Linked DNA regions of Homo sapiens. The protein of the gene in region 3 purifies or fractionates together with the protein of the main gene of each other region. This does not show direct contact. Each region holds a gene or a part of one and is shown on either strand. Other genes may lie near its edges.

The links.
Region 1: the proteins of GPN1 (region 3) and LRRC20 purify together in Homo sapiens (affinity purification with mass spectrometry; one large-scale study listed by BioGRID and IntAct). This does not show direct contact.
Region 2: the proteins of GPN1 (region 3) and URI1 purify together in Homo sapiens (affinity purification with mass spectrometry, with the first as the bait; one large-scale study listed by BioGRID). This does not show direct contact.
Region 4: the proteins of GPN1 (region 3) and POLR1E purify together in Homo sapiens (affinity purification with mass spectrometry; one large-scale study listed by BioGRID and IntAct). This does not show direct contact.
Region 5: the proteins of GPN1 (region 3) and TMEM183A purify together in Homo sapiens (affinity purification with mass spectrometry; one large-scale study listed by BioGRID and IntAct). This does not show direct contact.
Region 6: the proteins of GPN1 (region 3) and POLR1B purify together in Homo sapiens (affinity purification with mass spectrometry; one large-scale study listed by BioGRID and IntAct). This does not show direct contact.
Region 7: the proteins of GPN1 (region 3) and ZNF627 purify together in Homo sapiens (co-immunoprecipitation; one large-scale study listed by IntAct). This does not show direct contact.

What each region holds. Positions count from the first base shown.
Region 1 is NC_000010.11:70,327,126-70,330,625, forward strand, and holds part of LRRC20 (leucine-rich repeat-containing protein 20), read right to left. Parts: intron 1-3,500.
Region 2 is NC_000019.10:29,945,239-29,948,738, reverse strand, and holds part of URI1 (unconventional prefoldin RPB5 interactor 1), read right to left. Parts: intron 1-3,500. UniProt on the Homo sapiens protein: Involved in gene transcription regulation. Acts as a transcriptional repressor in concert with the corepressor UXT to regulate androgen receptor (AR) transcription.
Region 3 is NC_000002.12:27,635,550-27,639,049, reverse strand, and holds part of GPN1 (GPN-loop GTPase 1), read right to left. Parts: intron 841-3,500; coding exon 795-840; intron 166-794; coding exon 19-165; intron 1-18. UniProt on the Homo sapiens protein: Small GTPase required for proper nuclear import of RNA polymerase II (RNAPII). May act at an RNAP assembly step prior to nuclear import.
Region 4 is NC_000009.12:37,492,448-37,495,947, forward strand, and holds part of POLR1E (DNA-directed RNA polymerase I subunit RPA49), read left to right. Parts: intron 1-209; coding exon 210-268; intron 269-1,111; coding exon 1,112-1,256; intron 1,257-2,721; coding exon 2,722-2,829; intron 2,830-3,442; coding exon 3,443-3,500. UniProt on the Homo sapiens protein: Component of RNA polymerase I (Pol I), a DNA-dependent RNA polymerase which synthesizes ribosomal RNA precursors using the four ribonucleoside triphosphates as substrates.
Region 5 is NC_000001.11:203,006,003-203,010,173, reverse strand, and holds the start of TMEM183A (transmembrane protein 183A), read right to left. Parts: upstream 2,801-4,171; 5' UTR 2,709-2,800; coding exon 2,600-2,708; intron 2,544-2,599; exon of another isoform or gene 2,401-2,543; coding exon 2,311-2,400; intron 1,532-2,310; coding exon 1,364-1,531; intron 1-1,363.
Region 6 is NC_000002.12:112,548,965-112,552,464, reverse strand, and holds part of POLR1B (DNA-directed RNA polymerase I subunit RPA2), read right to left. Parts: intron 3,199-3,500; coding exon 3,066-3,198; intron 1,600-3,065; coding exon 1,463-1,599; intron 691-1,462; coding exon 467-690; intron 1-466. UniProt on the Homo sapiens protein: Catalytic core component of RNA polymerase I (Pol I), a DNA-dependent RNA polymerase which synthesizes ribosomal RNA precursors using the four ribonucleoside triphosphates as substrates.
Region 7 is NC_000019.10:11,600,483-11,603,982, forward strand, and holds part of ZNF627 (zinc finger protein 627), read left to right. Parts: intron 1-3,500. UniProt on the Homo sapiens protein: May be involved in transcriptional regulation.

The DNA.
Region 1 (3,500 bases), on a different chromosome or scaffold from region 3:
ATGCGGCCGTGGAAGCTAATGTGGGGGCTGTGATGGTTAATTTTATTTATCAACTTGAGTAGGCTAAGGGATGCCCAGACAGCTGGTCAAACATGATTTCTGGATGTTCTGTGAGGTTTTCTGGAGGATATCAGCAGTTAAATCAGTGGACTGAGTAAAAAGATCTCAGCCAGGCTCAGTGGCTCACGCCTGTAATCCCAGCAGTTTGGGAGGCTGAGGCAGACGGATCACTTGAGATCAAGAGTTCGAGACCAGCCTGGCCAACATGGTGAAACCCCATCTCTATTAAAAATACAAAAATGAGTCAGGCAGGGTGGCACGTGCCTGTAATCCCAGCTTCTTGAGAGGCTGAGGCACAAGAATCCGAGGCACGAGAATCCCAGGAGGCAGAGGTTGCAGTAGCTGAGATCGCACCACTGCACTCCAGCCTGGGCTACAAAGTGAGACTCTATCTAAAAAAAAAAAAAAAGTAATAATGATAACTAACGCTTATTACTATGCTAATAGAGCACTACTACATTCGAGGCACTTGTTCTGGGGATTTACATGTAATCATCATTGTGATTTTTCTCTAACCCATTACCATCAATTTACAAAGAGGTGAAATAACTTGCCCAAGGTCACAGAAACCCCAACCTCTCCCCAAGGTATGTGACGTTCCTCTCCCAACCCCCAAACCAGGATGTGAACCCCAGCCAGCCGTGTCCAGAGCCTGACTCCTCATCTCGTCCATCACTGTCCTGTCTCATGGGCTCTGCATTTGTCCCCTCCCTAAGAGAAGCAGGCCACGCTGGCACCTCACTTCATCCAGTTTTACACGCCTAATCCCTTCAATACCTGTTCTCAGAATACATAACCATTAAATCCTTGCTTGTTCAGTGGCCAAAGAATGACAAGAGGAGAACCAGGAAGGACCTGGTTATGTTCCAACTCATCAGGTGTCCTTGGGCCCATCCTCTCTCCAGGTGGCCTCATGAGAAGGTCTTTCCTGCCTATTTATCGCAGGCTGTGATGATGAGCTAAGAGGGCTGTGAAAGGCAGGATGAGCTACACAAGTCACATATTTACTAAGCACCTACTATATGCTCAGCCTAATCACATATTTACTAAGCACCTACTATATGCTCAGCCTTGTAACTGAATGTAAAAAGGGTAATCTTTGTTTTTTGTTTTTTGGCGTTTTTTTTTTGAGATGGAGTTTTGCTCTTTCGCCCAGGCTGGAGTGCAGTGGTGTGATCTTGGCTCACTGCAACCTCCGCTCCCTGGGTTCAAGCAATTCTCCTGCCTCAGCCTCCCAAGAAGCTGGGATTATAGGCACCCACCACCACACCCAGCTAATTTCTGGATTTTTACGAGAGACAGGGTTTTGCCATGTTGGCCAGGCTAGTCTCGAACTCCTGACCACAGGTGATACACCCGCCTCGGCCTTCCAAAGTGCTAGGATTACAGGCATGAGCCACCATGCCCGGTCAGAAAAGGGTAATCTTTGAAAATTAAATACACTCAACAAGACCAGGCGCAGTGGCTCATGCCTGTAATCCCAGCACTTTGGGAGGCCAAAGTGGGTGGATCACTTGGGGCCAGGAGTTCAAGACCAGCCTGCACAACATGGTGAAACTCTGTCTCTACTAAAAATACAAAAATCAGCCAGGCATGGCAGTACACAGCTGTAATCCCAGCTACTTGGGAGGCTGAGGCAGGAGAATTACCTGAACCCGGGAGGCGGAGGTTGCAGTGAGCCAAGATCCTGCCACTGCACTCCAGCCTGGGCAACAGAGTGAGAGCGAGACTCTCTTAGAGATAGAAGACACATGACACTTGGTTCCTGGATTATGGAACCTTTGCAGAAACAAAATTCAAAGCCAACATGATAGCAGGAATCAAAAGGGAAAATAAGAGAGGGTCAGTGCAACTGTGACACATGGATTGCAGGAAGCCAGTCAGAGCCAATGATGCCAACACAGTCTCCACTTACTCAAAAAATATTACTCAGCACCTACCACAGGGCAGGCTCTGCTAGACAGCGGGAAATCGTGGCAATGAGACAGACTAGATCCCAACCTTAACAAGCTTACAGACAAGTGCAGGGAGAAATAGTAAACAAGAAAAGAAGGTTATTTCAGATCGCTAGGAAGGCATTTGAGGTCAGAGTGAAAAAAACCAGTTCGGCAAAAAGCCCAGGGAAAAGCTATCTTCTTCTTCTTGTTGTTTTATGGCAGTGGTTAGAACTTTAAGGATGAGAGTGGACATCCTTGCCTTGTTCCCAGCTTGGGGGAAAGGCTTTCATCATCAAGTCTGATGTTAGCTGTAGGATTTTTGAAGATGCTCTTTACCAAGTTGAGGTAGTTTCCCTGTATTTCTAGTGTACTGAGAGTTGGAGTTTGTCAAATGCTTTTTCTTTGTCAAATGATATGATTGTGTGATTCTTCTTTTGCCTTTTTTTTTTTTTTTTTCGAGATGGAGTCTGGCTCTGTCCCCCAGACTGGAGTGCAGTGGCACGATCTCGGCTCACTGCAACTTCTGCCTCCCGGGTTCAAGCGATTCTCCTGTCTCAGCCTCCCGAGTAGCTGGGATTACAGGTGCATGCCGCCACTATGCCCAGCTAATTTTTTGTATTTTACTAGAGACGGGGTTTCCCCATGTTGCCCAGGCTGGTCTCGAACTCCCGAGCTCAGGCAATCCACCAACCTCAGCCTCCCAAAGTGCTGGGATTACAGGCGTGAGCCACCTCGCCCAGCCTAGCCTTTTCATATAATAGATTACACTGATTGATTTCTAAAGTTGGACCCAGACTTGCATACCTGGAATAACTGATAAATCCCACTTACACATGTCATATATTCTTCTTATACATTGCCGAATTTGACTGGTAATATTTTGCTGAGAATCTTTCCATCTGTGTTCTTGGGAGATATTGGTCTGTATTTTCTTTTTCTTTCACATTTTTTATACTGTCTTTGTCTGCATTTGATATCAGAGTAATATCAACTTCATAGCATGGATTGGGAAGTATGCCCTTCCCTTCTATTTTCTGGAAGAGGCTGTGTAAAATTGATGTTAATTCTCATTTTAAAAGTTTGATAGAATTCTCCAATGCAATCACCTGGGCTTGGAGATTTCTTCTTTGGGATCTTTTTATTTATGAATTCCACTTATTTGATAGTCATAGGTCTCTTCAGGTTGTCTGTTTCATCTTGGCTGAGTTTTAGTGGTTTGTGGTTCTCAAGAACATGGTCCATTTCTTCTAAGTTGCCAAATTTATAAGAATAAAGTTGTTTATAATAAACCTGGTAGGTTTTGAGTGGGAACCAAACCATGGAGCTGCTTCTAGGCCCCCTCCCCAAGGGAGGGCAAAGACAGCAGGTTCCTGGGGATGGATGTCCCACCCCTGTCAGTCACCCACTTGTCCAACCCCTAGGGCTTTATGAATGTCAATGTATGTGCCAAATTCCACCAAAATTGTTAGAGTAAATCTCCAGGTAGCCAAATCTGAGCTCCAT
Region 2 (3,500 bases), on a different chromosome or scaffold from region 3:
AGTAGACATAGGAGACTACATTTTGTTCTGTACTAAGAAAAATTCTTCTGCCTTGGGATGCTGTTAATCTATAACCTTACCCCCAGCCCCGTGCTCTCTGAAACATGTGCTGTGTCCACTCAGGGTTAAATGGATTAAGGGTGGTGCAAGATGTGCTTTGTTAAACAGATGCTTGAAGGCAAAAAAAAGTAACTTCAACATTACTTATTGAAGTTACAGAACTTACAGAACAAATATACTCTTTTCAATAAATTACCATAATTAAATCAATTTAGAAAAAGCATTTCTAAAATTCAACACCCACTCATAAAAACTCATAGCAAACTTGGAATATAAGGAAATTTCCTTAATCTGATAAAAGCAAATACAAAAATTACTCACAGTAAATACCACACTTAATGGTAAATGTTTAAAAGTTGACCCCTGATGCCCACTACCAGCACTTGAACTGGCCAGTATCAAAAGCAAGAAAAAGAAAGAAACAGCATACGGACTGGAAAGGAGAAAATAAAGGCAATCTTGAGGAACCACAACTAAAACTACACCACCATGTACCAGGTACCAAGATAACACAAAGTCATAATGATTTAGACAGTGTAGGTTTGCTGCAAGAACAGACAAGCCAACAGAACAGTCAAGAAACTGATCTACTTACACAGTCACCTGATTTATGACAAAGATGACAATGCGGTGGAGACATGACACTCTTTCCAATAAATGCTGATGGGACAACTAGGTATCCATACAGTAAAAATGAAACCTGACCTCAATCTCCCCCATATACAAAGCCAATTCCAGGTAGAATGTAGATTCTCAATGTGAAAAGCAAAGCAGTAAAGCTTCTATTAGACAATATAAGAGGATATCTTCAGAAAAGTAGTAAGAAAGACCTCTTAAAAATAAGACAAAAAACACTAACCATGAAGGAAACAATTGTTAAAATTAAAAATGTCTGTTGATCAAAGGACAGACACCACTGTAAGTGCTCCAAGTCAAGCCACAGACCAGGGAAGAAACTTACAATATATAATTGGAAAGGCAGTCATTACTATGAATCAATTAGAATATAACTAACATCCCAATAGAAAGTAGTTAACAGATGAGCAGGTATTTCACAAAAACAAAACACAAAAATCCAAGTAGCCAATAAACATCTGAAAAGGTCATCAACCTCATTACTCATCACTAGATTGGCTAGCAAATATGAAAAGACACATGGTGGTAAAGACTGAAGCAGGGAGAACTTCTGTCCACTGCTAGCAAGCGGTAAACTGGTATAACCACCTTAGAAAAAGCATTCTAAGTGGAACTGAAGACACAAACACGCCATGAGAAAGTTCCAGGCAAAAACTAGAAACAAACTGTTCATCTGAAAAATAAACAGTATTAATGAAAATTCTAAGATCGGATCTGTAAACATCTATCACAATGCGTGGCACACAGAGTTGCTCCCTATAATGTAATTCCATCCGTCCATTTCTTCACATATGCATGACAAATGGATATAATTTAAGATCAGCCTCAAAACACATTCCAATCGTTTCCCATCTCACAAATATGAAAACCAAAACTCTTACAATGATCTGGTACTGCTCTCATACTGGCTAGAAAGCTCTTCTCTAAAATATCCTCCATATATCCACACAGCTCACTCCCCACTTATTTCAAGTTTCTGCTCAAATGGAACCTAACAGAGAAGCCCTCTCTGATGGCTTACAGAAGACACCATCCCTCCACTCACATCCCTCATTCTCTACACGCCTCTTACCTTCCTGTTTTTCTACTTAGCCTTACCTACCAAACACCCAAGGTAAGGCTATGTAACTGCATGCCTTCACCCCTAGAGTGTAACCATGAAAGAAAGAACTTGCTGTATTTTGTTCATTACTGCACACTCAGCAGAACATGCCTGGCATGTAGTAGATACTCATTAAATATTTGTTACATAAATTCTATGGCATGGATTCTAGGCTTGGAAAGAATAGCTGTTATATGGCCTACGTGGCTGACAGTTCTTTAAACTATGTGCAGTTTAGTTTATCACAAGAAATATGAAAACCCTCCATTAAGTTAAATTAGCTGTTCTGCTTTATAAAAAATTTAAAATATTTACTCTTAATGCATTTAATTCCCCAAGGATCTATATCAGGAAGTATAAGCTATTCCAAAATTCCAAGTGAGAACTACATGAGGCACTCAATTATAAATATATTATCCTAATGAATTTTCTAATCTTACTATTATCCTGCAAATAAGCCTATAAAAACGATACTGGATCCACCACTTTTTAAAATATTACAATAAAATCTCAGTAGTTCTGCTAATAAAAGCTAATAGTATCTAGAGATAAAATACAGGTATCTCAGAAACATCACCTTAGCCAAGAAACAAAAATTTCAACATAATGCAATTCTTAGAATCAGATTTAACAAGATCTTAGTACAAGGAAACCTCCCTGAACAGCCCAAGACACTCCACAACAGTCCTAGACCACACATTTTATGGTATAGGTCACAGTCTAGACAGGTTAAGCTTCCATTTTTCCAACAAATATTTTACTGCTGTTAGTAAAAACAGATTTAGTTAAAGACAAAAAAAGGATGATCTGAATTTCTCTCCTCTCCCTGTATCTTATAACAAATGAAGATTAAATAAAACCTTTGGGGGGGGGAAGGAAATCAACTGGAAGATGGTTGTTTGAATAAATTATATATATCAGCTCTGAAGTAACCAAGAAATAAACCTGCCTAACCGGCATTCAAACCAGCCAAGAGCCATTTTTCAGGCTCAGAAAGTGTTTTGCAATTAAAGTAACATTCCAATTTTCGTTAAAATTAAAATAAGTTTTATCAATAGCTTTTTTTGGAAAAAAAAAAATCCCATCCAATTTTACAAACTTTTAGGTAAAATAATAAAATTGTGTACTTTTAAAACAATGGTGTTTTCCTATGTAAAATGTGTAAATATTTATATAAACGTAACTGGAACCACCCTATACATACTGTCCTAGTTTTCAATGCCTACGTAACAGCTCCTGATTTATTTAACCAATCCCCCAATGTCAGACTTTTAGTTTTTCTCTTTATAAACAAAGCTGCAGGGAATGTTTCTTACATGTTTTATTGCTAGATCAAAATAGAAACAAACCGAAGTTCTAACTAAAATAAATTGTTTTGGAAATGTTTCACCATTGACTGTAAGTGAAAGCAATGTTAAAATATTTGATCCTAACCGCTGACTACAGATATTGTCACTTAGAGGTTGTGGCTTGTTCATGCCCCTTGTCTGTCCTCTTCCTCAGGTTGCCAATTTTTTGTCCTTTTTATTCCATGTTCCAGAGAACATACAAGAAAAAAAGAGAGAGAGAGCGTAAAACTTGTTATACTCCTTAGCTGAATTTGGAAAAAAAGAAAGAGCAAAACTAATGAGCAACATTTAAGCCACATTACCTACCAGCCCCTCTCAATCAAGGCTCCCAGAGAAGATTATGCCCTAAGCCT
Region 3 (3,500 bases):
GCAGGAGAGAAAATTTACCCTGAGTGAGCTGTAAAACTCATCTAACACCAGGCTCATTGAACGAGTCAGGTTACTGACGTATGTAGTCTCTTGATTCAAGGCATCTTGGAAAGCCTCAAAATCCTGCATCCATTCCACTGCAAAGCTGTGGTCAATGATGTCAGTCTGTACCAGAGAGAAGTCAATTATGAGCAACCAGAGCCAACAAACGCAAAATTTATTCTTTTAATTAAGTGTTGACAGCAAAGAACATATCATCCATATATTTTCTTTCTCTGCTTCTATTTCCCCTCCATTGCAACAAGCCACAAAGAACCACAATCATTGTGTAGTCAGTGTAATTAAATGAAGATGTGTATTCTCTTGGTTGACCCTCCACTATCCACTGCCAAGTACCAGGACCAGAATGGACACCAGCACATTCTAGGCTCTGAAGTCAAAAGGTCTCTTGCATCCTAGCCATCAACCAACAGAGAAGTTTAGAATTTTTTAATTGCCACTTCCAGTAGACTAGTTGTCCCTCTCGTAATTACACAATCTTGACTCTGAGGGATAATCTACATACTGTGGTTGAAGTGCTACTCTACCTAGCCTAAAATAATTTTAGACAAGAGTTGGTAATAATTGCTCATTCAATTTGATTGATTCATTTTCTCGAAGTGCCTATGAATTTGTTTCAGTAAAGCCTGAATCTGGTCTCCAGCATCTGAAATAATCTTTCTCACCCACCTAAACCTTCTAACCACAAGGTTCTGATGAAAAATGGTGAATCACAACAGGAAGAATACACTTACTTTATTCATGACCACAATGAAAGGCAGCTTGGTTTTGTATAAGATGCTGAAAACCAAACATTGAGAAGTTATTAGTAAAAGCACATAAGCTCTTGCTCATCCAGTGTCAGCATGTCGGGACTAAGTAAGAGAACAGAAATGAGTTCAGAATCTAAAAAGTAGTCATCCATTTTTACATAACATCATATAGTCTCTGCCAACAGGAAAACAACTACCACCCAGAAGCAACACACACACTCTCACTCTTGTTTGAAGTAATAATGCCTTAATATTGAACTTGTTTTTGTTTTGTTTTTTAACCAAATTGGTATTTTTCAGAGAAGGAAATGAACATTTACTGAATACCTATTACAGGTTGAGAATTTCCTATCTAAAATACTTGGGACCAGAAGTGTTTTTTATTTCAGATTTTGGAATATTTGTAAATACTTATTGGTTGAGCATCCCAAATCTGAAAATCCAAAATCCTCCAATAACCATTTCCTCTGAGTGTCATGTCAGTGTCTAGAATGTCTCACATTTTGGAGCATTTCAGATTTCAAATTTTTGGATAAGGGATGCTCAATCTGTATAGTCTAGGCACTGTGCTAATAAGCACTTTCATAAGTATTATCTCCTTTATTCTTTACAAATAACATGTAAATATATACAATTTTTATTTGTCAATTATACCTCAATAAGGCTGGGAAAAGAATATTAAAATTTTTTTCAATCTGTAAAGTAACATCTTAAAAATGTTTCTACCCCTACCTTTATTGAGGTATAGTTGACAAATAAAAATTATATATATTTAAGGTGTACAAAGGGATATTTTGATACACAGTTGACCCTTAAACAACATAGGTTTGAACTGCAAGGTTTACTCATATGCACCTTTTCTTCCACCTCTGCCACCCAGAGACAGCAAAACCCAACCCCTACTCTTAGACTACTCAAAGTGAAGACGATTAGGATGAAGAGTTTTATGACGATCTACTTCACTTAATGAACAGTTAATATATCTTCCCCTTATTTTCTCTAGCTTTATTATATGAATACAGCATATAATACATATAATATATATGTAATGTGTGTTAATCTACTGTTTATGTTACCAGCAAGGTTTCCAATCAACAGTAGGCCTTTAGTAATTAAGTTTGGGGGGAGTCAAAGTTTTATATTTTGTAGAGATGGGGTTTCACCATGGTGCCCCGGCTGGTCTCTGCAGGGGTTGGCGCCTCTAACCCCCAAATTGTTCAAGGATCAACTGTATGTTTCATCATGAAATGATTACCAGCTGGGGGTGTGACTCATGCCTGTAATCTGAGCACTTTGGGAGGCCACGCTGGGAGGACTGCCTGAGCCCACGAGTTCAAAACCAGCCTGGGCAGCATGGCGAGACCCCACCTCTAAAAATAAATTAATTAATTTTTTTAAAAAGAAATGATTAACACTATCAGGCAAATCAAATAATTTTCTTTTAAACAATTAATATGAAAATGGGCCAGGCACAGTGGCTCATGCCTGTATTCCCAGCACTTTGGGAGGCCAAGGCGGGCAGATCACTTGAGGTCAGGAGTTTGAGACCAGCCTGGCCAACAAGGTGAAACCCCGACTCTACTAAAAATACAAAATTAGCCAAGTGTGGTGACTACTCAGGAAGCTGAGGCAGGAGAATCACCTGAACCCAGTAGGCGGAAATTGCAGTACGGTGAGATTGTGCCACTGTACTCCAGCCTGGGTGACAGAGCAAGACTCCGTCTCGAAAAAATATAAATAAATAAATAAATAAATAATTAATATGAAAATGAAATAATGCTGTCAATCTTCAGATTTCTATTTGGATCACAATTTCTTGCATCCACCAAAAAGGGACATCCCTTGTCATATCAGAAAAGACAAATGTTGGTGATGGCATTTGTGTACCCTCAAAATTAAATTCTCTCAGCTTTAATAACTGTCAGCCTTGCTCCTCAGTCTTAATGCACTAATCTAGTGAGGCATGCCCTTCCTCTGCTAATGGTGCCACATTTGGGGCAAACCAGTGCATTTTATTTTTTTGAGACAGGGTCTCACTCTGTTGCCCAGCCTGGAGTACAGTGACATCATCACAGCTCACTCCAACCTTGGCCTCCCAGGCTCAAGCAATCCTTCCACCTCTGCCTCCCAGGTAGCGGGGATTACAGGCACACACCACCATCCCTGGCTAATTTTTTGTATATTTTGTAGAGATGGGGTTTCACCATGGTGCCCAGGCTGGTCTCAAACTCCTGGGCTCAGGCGATCCTCCCACCACAGCCTCCCCAAGTGCTGGGATTATAGGCATGAGCCACCATGCCTGGCCACCTGTGCATTTTACAATTATGGATAAATCTTCTTATTCATGGTATCTCCTCATGTTACAATTTCACTCTACCAGCATCATTTAGGCCAGAGGACTCTATTCTTCTCTCTCTCTCTCGTTGCCCCAGGCTCTTGTTGCCCCAAGCCGGAGTGCAGTGGCACAATCATGGCTCACTACAGCCTCAACCACCTGAGCTCAAGCAATCCTCCCACGTCAGCCTCCCAAGTAGCTGGGACTACAAGGGCGTGCCACCACGCTGGCTAATTTTAAAACATTTTTTGTAGAGACAGAGTCTTGCTATGTTCCCCAGCCTGGTTTCAAACTCCCAAGCTCAAACGATCCTCCCACCTTGGCCTCCCAAGTGTAGGGATGACAGACCCAGC
Region 4 (3,500 bases), on a different chromosome or scaffold from region 3:
GATTTGGCTAATTTATTTTCCAAGTTCTTTAACTGTATACTAAAGCTGCATATTAAATATTCACAGTATACACTCATGTTAGGCTCAGGGAAGTCCTATAGTAAAGAAATCTATTATTCTTAGATAGACAAATGAATATTAAACACTATTACTATTTGTAGGCCTCCCAATTGACTTTTCTTTCTCTCTGTTTTTGTGTGTTTTGATAGATGTATCAGTTGAGAGTGAACTGGCGCTAGAGAGTCAGACCAAAACTTACAGAGAAAAGGTGAGTGTGATAGAATTAAGATGTGGGACCTTAAGCAAGTTCCTTCTACACCTCGGGTTTCTCCATCAGTGAAATGAGCTTGTTGAACTCAAGGGTCTCCCTGGCTGCTCCCCGCTCATTCAGTCTGTTTCTCTGGACAATTAGTTTGTACCTGCAGAAGCCTCCTTGGTCCCACAGAGAACAGTCTGGCTCCCATCTGGGGCAGCTGAACACAGCTCTGTGCCAATGTTTGGAGTCGGTTCTCTGGGCTGATACAAGTGTAGCATAATGCTTGTTTTTAGGATTTAGTCCAAGTTTTAGAATATATTGGTTGTAGCCTGAAAACATTCACGTTAAAACAAAGTAAACTTGGGGATTTTCAATGTAGAAGGTCCCTACAAAGGTCATCTCACCCCAAGATGACAAACTGATTGAATCTTTGGTGCTGTGTGGAGCACTGTATTGAGAAGGGTTGTGAGGCTACTTTTTGCTTCAGGGGGAAGGAGTCAGTGATCTATTAGCCCTGTCTGTTACGGGTGTAAGATGGGAGAATTACCATTCTACTATTCCTGTCTGTTACGGGCATAGGATGGGAGAATGGTAAGCCATGTGCTACAGATTTGCCAGCCCTAATCCTAGTCAAGTCTTTATATCTTACTGATGGAGATGCTGTTGATTGATCAATCTGTTAATATCATTTGGTGCTTACAGCAGTCCTGTGAGGTAAATAGGTGCGATTCAGCCTTATTCACAGGTGAGGTAGTGATCACTCTGGGATGCTGAGAGTATCCCCATAGTGACACAGCTAGGAGGGGCAGCACCTACCTGTCCTGTCCCCAGTAACCAGGTTTATCTCATAAACAGATGGATTCTTGTATTGAAGCCTTTGGTACCACCAAACAGAAGCGAGCTCTGAACACCAGGAGAATGAACAGAGTTGGCAATGAATCTTTGAATCGTGCAGTGGCTAAAGCTGCAGAGACTATCATTGATACGAAGGGTGTGACTGGTAAGAAGTTGGAACTTGGGCTAAGAGTCTGCCCATAATGACAGCTTTCTCTTCTCTTGAGATCTTTTACCCACCCACACATGGAATGCTGGGAGCTAGGGCTGGATTCCTTTCAGCCTCTTGCTGAAGGCCTTCTCACGGACAGGTTCTGGAAGTAGTAAGAAACATCCGACATGGCTTTGTCTTCTAGTGATCCACAGTCAAGTACAGGGACAGGCATGGAATGGATACATGCCTGCCGTGCTTATGGTGCTGGGGTTATGGCCTGCAGGGCACAGAGGAGGGAGAAGGCCTCAGGTCTCTCCTTGTGCGTTGCAGGGAAGCTTTGGTCAAAAAGGCTGATGTGTTGATGGAAATGAGCCTCCAGAGGTGGCATTTCACTTTGGGATCAGTGGCTCTGTTTCCGGTATTCAGCAGCTGGAGTATTTAATTGTATTATTTTAAAATGTATTTATTGTTCAAATACATTATAAGAACATAAGAGCAAGTTTGTGTAAGAGTAGCTTTTCTTTTTACCGATTTTGGAGATGAGGTCTTGCTATGTTGCCCAGGCTGATCTTGAACCCTTGGCTTCAAGCAGTCCTCCCGCCTCAGCCTCCCAGGTAGCTAGGATTATAGGCGCACACCACTGTGCCCTGGGCAGAGCAGTTTTTCTATTAAGAATGAAATTCTAGTAATTTTTGGAAAATCTTTCCATACCCTATGATTATATAGATTTCAACACTTTCACAAATTTATTTATTGATTGATTGGAGATGGGGTCTTGCTCTATCACCCAGACTAGAGTGCAGTGGTGCAGACATGGCTCACTGCAGCCATAACCTCCTGGGCTCAAGTGATCCTCCTACTTCAGCCTCCCAAGTGGCTGGGATCACAGATGTGTGCCACCATGCTCAGCTAATTTTTTTAGTTTTTTGGAGAGACAGGGTCTTGCCATGTTGCCTGGGCTGGTCTCAAACTTCTGGGCTCAAGCCATCCTCCCGCCTTGGCCTTCCAAAATGTTGAGGTTACAGGTGTGAGCCACCACACCTGGCTGCGGAGTTATTCTTGTGGGGCAGTTACAGTGTTATATTCTGAAAGTTTTGTTCCACCTACAATGTGTGGCAAGTTTTTCTAGAAGTTAAGCCATTAAAGGCTATTTTGGACGTCCCTCACTTTTAGTTTCTCTCATTTTATATTGTAAATGTTTATGTATTAGCACAGCTGTCAATCCCAACTCTATTGTAAGTTACCTGAGGGGAATCTTGTCACCTCCACCTTCTCCAGTGCCTAGCTTGTGTTTGTTCATGAGTGAACATGGCAGTCCTGAAGCAGTCAGCCTGATGGGGAGGCGAGGTCACTTTGGCAGAAGCATTTAGACTTGGGGTTTCTGGACCATTGGTGGTCTGAAGTGCACAGACTGAAAAGAATGTTGGGGAACTGGAAACAAACAGGGTGATACATGGATTGTTTCTTTATTGAAAAGCTCTGGTCAGCGATGCTATCCACAATGACTTGCAAGATGACTCCCTCTACCTTCCTCCCTGCTATGATGATGCAGCCAAGCCTGAAGACGTGTATAAATTTGAAGATCGTATCCTTCTTGCAGTAGAAAAGCTGCCTTATTTCACAAGTTGAGATGTTTGCACGTGTGTGCAGTCAGGTTCTCTGAGGGTGTCTGTGTTCTGTGACATTCACAAGAGCTCCATCCAAACCTTTGCAGTTGCTCAGTGCTCTTGCCAGGAGGTTAACTTGGCTTCCTCACTAGCTGAGGGACCGGCCCCTGGGATTCAAATCCATTCCTCAGCAAAATGCCAAATGCCCACAGCTTAGACCTGTGGGGCTCACTCTCCATGGAGAGTCAAAATAAGAGTTGAACCAGCCAAATGCCCAAAGTCTAGGGCAGACCACTTTTGTTGAAGGAAGGGTTGGAGCTTAGAATTTCACCACCCAAGGGGTCCGGTCAGAAGGAAAATGCCTGCAGTGGCTTTGTGATGAGAAAAAGCAGAAAAGCCTGGGCAGGGAATGGGCTCTGGGCTGGGAGTCGGAGAACTGAGTCACCAAGCTCTGCCCCTATGTGATCTGCCCTGTGTGATCTTTGGCTCTCTGAGCCTGTTTCCCTGTCTGTGAAATGCCACTGCTATGAGATGACCTAGCTAGTTGGATGTTTCTATTTTGGTTGGATTATATTCTTGACCTGTAACTAGTTCTTTCCCCTGCGGAGTATGAAGCTCTTCAGAGCCCATCTGAAGCTTTCAGGAACGT
Region 5 (4,171 bases), on a different chromosome or scaffold from region 3:
ACATCATTTACTATTATTTTTTTCTTTTTTTTTTTGAGACAGAGTCTTGCTCTGTCACCAGGCTGGAGATGTGGTGGTGCAATGCAATCTCGGCTCACTGCTACCTTCGCCTCCCAGGTTCAAGCGATTCTCCTGCCTCAGCCTCCCTGGTAGCTGGGACTACAGGTGCACACCACCACGCCCAGCTAATTTTTGTATTTTTAGTAAAGACAGGGTTTCACCATAATGGCCAGGATGGTCTCGAACTCCTGACCTTGTGATCTGCCCACCTCAGCCTCCCAAAGTGTTGGGATTACAAGCGTGAGCCACCATGCCTGGCCTCACCATTATTTATCGGCTTTCACCTAAACGTAGCTGATCATCAGAACCACTTTAGCTTTAAAAATTCTGGGCTAAGCATGGTAGCTTATGCCTGTAATCTCAGCACTTTGGGAGGCCAAGGTGGGTGGACTGCTTGAGCCCAGGAGCTCAAATCTAGCCTAGGCAACATAGTGAGACCCCTGTCTCTACAAAAAATAGAAAAAATTAGCAGGCATGATGGCATAGCACCTGTAGTCCCAGCTACTCAAAAGGCTAAGATGGGGGGATCGCTTAAGCCTGGGAAGTCAAGGCTGCAGTGTGCCATGATCTTTCCACTACACTCCAGCCCAGGCAAGAGACCAAAACCCTGTCTCAAAAAAATAAATAAATAAAAATTCTGAGTTCCACCCCAAGAGATTCTGACTCATTAAGTCTGAAGGAAAACCCAGAATCTGAATGATGGTTTGGCACGTTATATTATCATCAGTTTATTATTCTTTGTTTCATTTGTGTACATTTCATTGCCATTAGGATATAAAAAAATCACCTACTTTTCTATTTCCCACAATACTTATTAGACATAAAGCAGACATTACTAATTGCAGAGCACTTAAAAGCCCACGATAATGTCTATGTTTGTGTGTAACAAAACTAGTTAACGTAAAATCCACATACTTTGGAAAACATTTTTTGGTTACATCTCTGCTTCCTTACACATTCAGAAATCCAGAAATGCAAAGGCCTTTTATTTTCACATTGCCTTATGGGTTTTTACCTGATAATAACATGTTCTCAATGAAGGGCTACTAGAGTCCAGTTCACAGCTCCAGAACTCTACTAACACGTACTAATCTCTTTCCCTCTCGAATTCAGACAAAAGAAAAAAGAAAGCCCAGGTGTATTAAATCCCGGCCCACTACCAAGGTTCTTAGGGAGAGCCAAGTTTTCTTTAAACTCTCCTGGTATCACGTCTTATATCTCCTCCTGTGCTACTGGGAAAGTAACATCTTCAATTTGTCACCACAGGCAGGTCTAATAAACCAAAAGAGAACAAGCTCCATACCTTTGTGTCTCTTGCTTTTCTTTTTTCTGGAGACAGTTCTCTCATGGATGCTTTCCTCCTGGGCATCCATCTCATCACTGCTGTCGATGATGTCACAGGGCTCACCAGCCCCAGAAAGAGCTTCCTCTGCAGGAACCTGAGAGGCTTCCAAGCCACAAAGAGATTTTACTAGAAGAAAATAAAAGGAGAATGAGATGGCACACAGCTCCACCCAGAAATACAAACAACTTAGCCAAGGTATCAGCATCCATTCAGGAAAGGGGGGAAAAAAAACATCGTTGAGAGAGAAAGGTGAGAATCTGTCACCAAAAAAAATAAAGATTTTAGTATTTTAAATACAAAAAAAAAAAAAAAAAAGGAAAGCAATGGGCAAACTGACTCCAAAGTTGCAGAAACTCCTTTTTTCAGCCCTGAAGAAAAAAGGTGTGTACAATTTTTCCACTATAAACCCTGCAGGATAAAAGCTGATTTGTATTCTCATAAGGTCTACAGAGAAATGTTTGAGACAAATTGAATCCAATTTAATCCTGGTCCTGAGCTGGAGGCAGTAGGTGTCATAAAACACAAGTCTCAGACCCATGAGTAAACAGACTGAAAGCAAGAGAAACACCAGAAAAGGAAAAGAACACTCCAAGGTTATTAAACAAGGAAGCAAACTGCAGAGTAAAACATGTGAACTACAGCAAAGAGATTAATAACCAAGAAGAATGCAGTGGAAACTAAAAAGTATGCAAACATGTTTTTAAATGCAAAGAAAGAAAGAAAATATTTCTGCTACAGAAACTGCTACTCTTGACTAATCCTCCTCCACCCCAATATGTAAGTTAACACTAACGAAAGCAAACACGGTTACAGGAAGACGACTAAAGGACTGCAAGAAAAACAGAAATAAAATACCTAGTTCTGTCTTCGCGGCATGAGTCTTTAAAGGCTCGCGCAAAGCTTACCTTCCTGCTGAACAGCGTTGGCTACGGCTTTCTTGACTCGTCCAGACCTCACGACCGCCGGATCCGAGTTGGCGTAATCCGCCACGGTCACTGCAACACAGCACCAACCCTCAAGGAAGAGGCCTTCTCTCGTCAGCGTCTTCCCCGCCAACACCTCCTCCTCGCTGCAGGCCCCCGGACCGAGCCGCCCTCCAGCCGCGGGCACGCGAGCGCTCACCTCGGCACGGTCCAGCCCCCTCCCAGCCGCCAGCCCCCAAAATGTTTCAGCGCCCCTGCCCCCCTCGCCCACCTCGGCCGGAGCAGGCGTCGTGGGCCCGGAACTTGAGTCGCTTTCCTCTCTTGGGCATGGCGACCGTATCGGGGCGAGGCCTGCCTAGCGGGCCGGGCCCCCGGGCCATGTCTCCGGCCGGAGAGCCGGCCCCGGGAGCCGCAAGCCAGCTCCGCCCGGCTCCGCGGCCATCCCACACCGGAGGCCGCTAACTCTCGCGAGAACATAGGTCCGGGTTCCGAGTCGCGTTGTCGGACGACGCCTCTCCACGCGAACCAATCATCGCCAGGTGCAAGGATACGTCATCATCCGGCACCCGCGAATCAAGCTGGGTCCGGGTTCCAGGTGGAGAGAGAGCTGTTGTACTGGGTGGTGTCGCGTATCGCCGTACCTCGTGTGAGATGAATGGTGTCTCAGAACCATAGCCCACACCTGTGTTGATTAGAATTGAGAGTTTACATCCTGGTCTCCGGGATTCTTCTTAGTAACTCCTCTGTCCACACTCCAGGTCCACTTCAGCACCAAAATGCATATACACTGTCATCTTCGTGCTCTATCTCGGACCACAGAGACTGAGCGCCTGCTAGTCTAACATAGGTCTGTAAGAGTCTTCACTCTATTTTACGAAAGCTATAAATAAATTTCTGAATTCTCAAAATAGGAGAAGGAGTTCTTAAAAGCTTCCAATCGGCCGGGCGCGGTGGCTCACGCCCCTAATCCCAGTACTTTGGAAGGCCGAGGCGGGCGGATCACGAGGTCAGGAGATCGAGACCATCCTGGCTAACACGGTGAAACCCCGTCTCTACTAAAAATACAAAATATTAGCCGGGCGTGGTGGCGGGCGCCTGTAGTCCCAGCTACTCGGGAGGCTGAGGCGGAAGAATGGCATGAACCCGGGAGGCGGAGCTTGCAGTGAGCTGAGATCGGGTCACTGCACTCCAGCCTGGGCGACAGAGCAAGACTCCGTCTCAAAAAAAAAAAAGTTTCCAATCTATCACCATATAAGGTTAGCCGAGAGAAAGGACGAAAGAGAGACCCAAGGTCAGCCGAGGAAGTTTATTAACCTGACGGCTGCTCCACCACAGACAGAGGAGGCACCCCTGAGCTTACAAAATGAGGGGTTTATATGGGGGAGAGAGACCCTGGGGTTGTTTGCTGGTTAATTTTGCCACATATTAGCTTGTGACGTTTATTACAGGAGGGTGTAGGTAAAGTTTGTTTATGCTTCCCATCACCTTCCCCTGTGCGGTCCGGATGATTTGTAATTGGGGTTTGTTTATTGCAGCAAGGTCTGATAAGTGAAGTCTGCTGGCTTCATAAGGACTTAGAAGTGTAAAGAGGCTTGGGGGAAGGAGAAGAGTTGCAGAGCATTAGGGGGAGGAGTGAGCAGCACGGAGAGGTTTGGGGGAAGTGTCGGCAGTACCAAGAAGCTTTTTGGGGCAGTTTGTTCCTAACACACCATACCTCCAAAAAACTACTAGAAGCATCCATGAAAAACTATCGCAGAGGCAGGAAGGTCACTTGAGTCCAGGAGGTCAAGGCTGCAGTGGGCCATGATTGCGCCACTGCACTCCAGCCTGGGCTACAGAGCGA
Region 6 (3,500 bases), about 85 Mb from region 3:
ACTGGACAGCACCAGTATGGAGCTGGCTTCTTTAGTAATTATACAGTGGTTATATAAGACAAAGTCCTTGCTTTGGAGAAATAAAGTGATACAATCCCTGCAACTTTCAGGGATTGTACAGAAAGAAAAATGTACATCTGTGTACACAGAAAGTAAAAAAGTAAATGTAAATGAATGAAATGTTCACAATTAGAATCCAATGTACTATTTGGACATTATTCTGGAAGTCTGAAATTATTTCAAAATAAAAGTTAAAAAGTACTATAAAATAAAACACGACTACTAAAAAAATACAAGTGAGGAGGGCCGCAAAAACAAAGGTAGCCCCCGGCTAGCAAGGACCAGGATTCTACCCCAAGATTCATTCTCATTCCCAAATGACTCGCCCGCCCAAACTGCAACCAATACAAAGAACCACTGACAGCCCTCCGCCCCTCCAAAAACAGTTTAGACAAAGCACACATACTTAAACAGGAACTCCGCAGCTTGCTCATTTGGGTACCAGTCAGGAACATTGAGTTTTACTCTGAAGCATTCACCTAGGTAGTTAAGGACCTGTTTTTGTGTCGAACAACCCTCTTCCATTACAATCCTTAACATCTGAGAAACAGAGTTCCTAAGGAAAGAATCATCCTCTTTTCCTTTGATGAGCTCCTGAAAGATCTGATAATCAGAAAAGCTGACAAGTGCCTAGAATAGAAAATAAAAGGTTTAATTGCTCACTAATAACTAAAATACTTTATCTATTCACTAATAATTATCTTCTCTCATTTTTTTAATACCCAAGGAAAATTAGCACTCTGCTATTGCTGAATCAAAGTAAACTCTCTAAAATAAAGCATTCTTTGTATGATAGCCAGACAGCACAATTGCCTCCAGGGTCCTCATCTCCTGGTGTTCACAAACGTGTAGTTTCCTCCCATGCCGAATCAAGGCTGGCCTGCTTGACCAAGAGAATGTGGTGAAAAAGATAATGGGAGACTCCCAGGGCTAGATCACAAAGGGCACTGCAGCTTTTTCCTTCTGCATCTTCTGCTCTCTGTTCTCTCAGCTAACTATATGGAGGAAGACAGTTGCCTCAAGCAGCCTACAGAAAGGGCCATGTAGAGAGCAACCCCATGAGGAGACCTCCTGCCACCAACCAGCAGATTTGCCAGCCATGTGAGTGAGCCACCTTGGAAGTCCTGAAAATGACTGCAGTCCTGTCTGACATCTCCATGCAACCTCCTGAGACCCTGGGCCACAAGTGCCCAGCCAAAGCACTCCCAAACTCCCGACCCGCAGAAACTGTGAGACAGAAATGTTATTGAGTTTTAAGCTATTGAATTTTGACGTAATTTGTTTTGGAGCAGTAGACAACTAGTACAGTATTATTTTAACAAGGAGAATCCATCCAATGTGCACAGGATACTACCCCCAGTGAATTTCTTCATAACAAAAGAATGCATTCATTAAGTCATACCTTAAGTGCAAATCCCAAAGGAAGAAAGAACAGTTCTTTTCGGTAAATAAAGTTCAACATAACAGTGCCATTTTCCAAGTAGTGGAGGTTCATATTGACAGCGGAATGTTCTTCCCTCACACAGTGCATTGAAACTCCTATTGAACCAAACAACAAAAAAATCAGAAACTCATTGATATCTTAATTGCTTCAACCATTTTCTTTCTGAACAATCTTAACCTCTTAGACACAATTAAAGCCAAATCACTAAGTTTAGCCAAGACTGGCAATCAAAAATGTTTCTAAACCTCAGCAAATGTCCTCTTGCATGCAAAATCTACCCAGATTGAGAAACACTAATGTAAAATAACCGAAACTATGAATTTAAGCAAACTTCAAAGTTTCCCTCCAGGACAGAGTCCACATCTTTTAGCACTTTATATCTGCCTTAAACTGTGGAGTCTGGTCAAGACATGGTGCTTGATCTAATAGTTCCAATGGAGAAAAGTAGAATTTTAGATTTTATTTCAGTTTCAGGCAAAGACTGCTAAGACATACTACCATCAACTGATGCAAAAGAAAATCACTAGACATTCAGGCATGCTGTTTTTCTAGGTATAGTATGTATGGCTATAATTAAGGTCTGATTTTTAGCTCAACTATCAGGACAAATTGTTTAACTGTCAGGGTTGCTCAAGAATACAACATGCTGTCTTAGGCATTGTCAAAGAGAATGTTCCAACAGAGGCCAGGTGGCTGTCAGACAGAGACCCTGAGGGGTGTACCACAGTGGCCTGAACCAGAAGACATCCAAGGCCCACATTCACCTATGGCCAAGCCAGACTAGCTTCCATCTTCATAAGTAGTAACAAAAATACACATGCTCTTTCAGTTTGCAAAAGTGCAGCAGCCTGAACCAGAAGACAGCCAAGACCCACACCCACTTATGGCCAAGCCAGACTAGCTTTCATCTTCATAAGTAGTAACAAAAATACACATGCTCTTTCAGTTAGCAAAAGTGAATTTTAAAATGCTTATGATTGATAAAAATCATATATATTCAAGGTGTACAATACCTTGAATATACATATACATATATTATAATGATTTCCACAATCAAACTGATGAAAACATCAATCACCATAGTTATCATTTGTAGTACGTGTGCACGCGTGTGTGGTTGAGACACTTAAAATGTACTCATCAATTTTAAGCAGTACAGTATTACTATCATCACCAGGCTGTACATCAGATCCCCAGAACTTATTCATCTTGTAACTGCAAGTCTGTATCCTCTGACTAACATCTCTCCATTTCTTCTTCCATCCCAATTATGAAAACTTAACACAAGAATGCTCAATAGAAAAACAACAAAAAACAAAAGAAAGACCAGACACGGTGGCTCATGCATGTAATCTCAGCACTTTGGGAGGCTGAGGCAGAAGGACTGCTTGAGCCCAAGAGTTCGAGATCAGCCTGGGCAACGTGGTGAAACCCCATCCCTACCAAAAAAAAAAAAAAAAAGAAACAAAAATATCAAAGACCATTTGGATGCATCTACTTCAAAAAAAAAAAAAGTTTTAAATTTTCCTTAAAAAATATTCTAATAATCTCCAGAACTTACCATACTGAGTATAACCAGGCCCTCTGGTTTTCCATTTTGGTCTTATCATTGCAATGGGAAAATTTCTCCGAGGCATAATCAACATTCGGATGACTTTTTCAATGCCATTGATTATAAAATAGCCCCCCATTTCCTGCCAAAAAGATGAATTGCAACTTGTTAAACAAAGATACATGACTAACTGTAAACATGAACCTCACTCCTAGCCAAAGGTAGTACAACACACAGAATAGGAACACAGAGGTGAAATGTACTACTGATCCCTTGAAAACAGTACACAGACACTGTCTTTGTGTGAATTAACAGTTTTCTCAAGTATATTACAAAGGTCCTAGGGACATGGGAAAAAAGTATGGAAGAAAAACAGGGTACTTCTCTTTATCAGACAGGCTCAACCTATCTTGCCTTTCTGTCCCCTAAAATGACTTCAGTCTT
Region 7 (3,500 bases), on a different chromosome or scaffold from region 3:
TAAGTTTCTCAAGTATGTTGTTTTTTTTTGTGGGGGTGGGGTGTGGTGATTTAAAATGGAATTCCAGGGCTTAGTGTTGGGAATACTAAGGAAAAGAGAGAGAGAAAACTCTCTTCTATCATGACTGCAGAAAATGAATACATTTCCACAAGTAAGTGTAGCAAATAAATTGGTGAATTACAGAGATTCACCAAAACATCAATTCCTCTGCTTTGCAGGGTGGCAAACTTGTGACAGTGGATAACTGTTCTCTTCCTGTTATCTAGACATCAGAGTTTAATGCGAAGTCCTAGTAGGACAGGACTTGGTAACTCCTAGAAGTGTTCCAATATGATTTAGTACATGATTTGTTACCATAGAAAGAATAAATAACATGTTTATTGTCTGAAGAGGATGGATACTTTTACTTTTCCTGTTAAGGTATGAAATATAAGTGCCTTACAATTTCCTTCCTTGCTATAAACAGTGAATTTGAGTGATTTTACTGGAATCTTCAAACCCTGGGTATTTTCTCATTGAAAATTAAATGCATAACCTTGACTGGGAAACAGAGACAGCAGACTAGTGACTTGAAACTAAGACCAATCTTGAGCCTTCAAAGAGAGGACATTACAGGCCCAGTGGTTCTTGCTGAGGAGCCTCCCCTGCAGTGTCCCAGCTGCTCACAACTGACTTTGGGTGGAGCCCTTTATAGTGAGAGAAGCTCAGAGCCCTGGAAAGCTGGGGATTCATAGGCAGAGGTGGTTGAGGTGATGCCTTTCTGAGAATGTACTTGCTATTATCTTGGGTCTGTTTGTAGACGTTTCTAATGAAACAAATCTGGATTTAGGTAAGGAGTGATTTATTTTATTTTTATTTATTTATTTTTTTTGTGTGTGACAGGGTCTCACTCTGTCTCCTAGGCTGGAGTGCAGTGGTGCGATCATAGCTCACTGTAGCCTTGATCTCCTGGGCTCAAGGAATTCTCTCACATCAGCCTCCCAAGTACCTAGGACTAAAGGCATGTGCCATGATGCCTGGCTTATATTTTTAAAAAAGTTTTTTTAAGAGAGACAGGACGTTGTTATGTTGCCCAGACTGGTCTCTAACTCCTGGCCTCGAGCAATCCTCCCACCGTAGCCTCCCCAAATTCCAGGATTATGGGGGTGGGGCGGGGAGCACCACCACACCAGACAGGAATGACTATTCTAAAGGATAATCGAAAGGGGAGAAGGCACCAAGTATAAAATCTTCAAGCATCTCAGGCTGGGCGTGGTGGCTCACGTCTGTAATCCATGCACTTTGGGAGGCCGAGGTGGGTGGATCACAATGTTAGGAGTTTGAGACCAGCCTGACCAACATAGTGAAACCCCATCTCTACTAAAAATACAAAAATTAGCCGGGCATGGTGGTGCGTGCCTGTAATCCCAACTACTCGGGAGGCTGAGGCAGGAGAATCGCTTGAACTCAGGAGGCAGAGGTTGCAGTGAGCCGAGATCGCGCCACTGCACTCCAGCCTGGGCGACAGAGTGAGACTCTGTCTCAAAAAAAAAAAAAAAAAAAAAAAAATCTGCAAGCATCTCAGAGTTTATGCAGAAAAGGATTTTCTTTTGTAGGGAGGAGCAAATGATGAGAAAGAAGGTGGGAGGTGGAAGGCAGGATGCAGGGTGCAAAATCCCACCTAGATCCTGAAGGCAGTCTCTTCTTAGGAGGGTCATCAGAGGGGTTGTATATAGGCTCAGGCTGGGGGTGGGTCAAAGTTCAGGGGCTGGAGGAAGAAGAGAAACTTAACCAAAGTTTTGTTAACAGGTACTTTGTTCTGACTGATCACTGAAGACAGAGCTGTTCAGCTAATCAATTGTGAGGAAAATAAAGGGAATTTCTAGTCTGTGTATGGCTTTGTCATAGGTAAAAAAGCAGTGTCATCTAAGTCATAATGAGAAGAGTGTTTCTTTGCGTAACCTGCTCCTGCAGAATACAAAAGACGGGGGAGTTTCTTTAACCATAGCTATTTCCAGGATTACATACCTGCCCAATCTTCTGCCGCCATTTTCCCTTACATCCATCCCTTCCATTTCGCCATTTCTGATTTATATGCAGTTGCTGAGAAGTATGGGTGATCCCTGGGGCTTGTGACTGGCATCTGCAGTGGGGCACTGTTATGGTAATGAGCCCTGAACTTGTGGGGTCCCCGTTAACTCTGGGTAGTGTCAGAATTGATTTGAATGCTTAATTGGTGTTGGAGAATTGGAGATTTGGTTGTGTTCAGCAAACACCACACATTTGGTGTCAGAAATGGTATATGAAAAAAGACACTAGAGATCAGAACCTTCACCTGGCTCTGGGTAAGTGTTCGCTGGTGAGAATTGAGACCCTGGAGGAGGGAGCATTTCCACACTGTGAGGAGAGGAGAGTGGGTTGTGTGAAACACCTGTGGACTCACTACCCAGGTTCATAAATGGGCATTGGGCATTTCTGGTATGTCCTGATCTTGTCTCCCGTCTGTACCCACAGGTGACCAGGTCCTCATTTTTAAAAGGTGGTTCTTCATAGTTTTACCATCTATTTATCATTAGGCTGAATTTTGCTTGGCTCTTCCTCTTTTGAATTTTTAGTAAGTTATTACCATTAATATTATGCCAAAAAGAGTTTTTTTTTGGTTTCTTTGCCTGTTTGTTTCACGCATGCTGGTTTCTGCATTTAGTTTGGGGGTTAGGATTTCAGCAAATGAAAGTTTGGGCAGGGGATGGTGGTGGAATACAAACATTCAGTCTGTTAACAATCCTAACTGTATTTTGTACGACATCTTGGCTATTCTTAGCCTTTTTTTTTTTTTTTTTTGAGATGGAGTCTCACTGTGTAGCCCAGGCTGGAGTGCAGTGGCGCTCTTGGCTCACCGCAACCTCTGCCTCCGGGCTCAAGTGATTCTCCCACCTCAGTCTCCCAACAAGCTAGGACTACAGGTGCACAGTACCACACCAGCTAATTTTTGTATTTTTTTTTTTTGTGGAGGCGGGGTTTTGCCATGCTGTCTAAGCTGGTCTTGAACTCCTGGGCTCAAGCAGTCCACCCAGCTATGCCTCCCAAAGTGTTGGGATTATAGGTGTGAGCCACTACGCCCGGCCTTATTTTTGTCTGTTTTTTGTGGAAGTGATATCATCCTATATGTTATATTGTATGCCATCTGTCTATTTCACATAGCTGTGAATCTTCCATGAAATGGTATTTTATTCACTATTTTACTTAATAAACTTTATTTTTTAGACCGGTTGTAGTTTGACAGAAAAATTGAACAGATAATACTTAGAGTTTCCTTATTCTCCTCCACAGGTGATTGTTTTCCCCTACTTTTCTTTTTTTTTAAGAGACGAAGTCTTGCTCTGTCACCCAGGCTTGAGTGCAGTGGTGCGATCACTGCTCACTGCAGGCTAGACCTCCAGGGCTCAAGTGATCCTGCCGCCTCAGCCTCCCAAGTAGCTGGGACCACAGGTGTGCACCACCACATCTGGCTAATTTTTTTT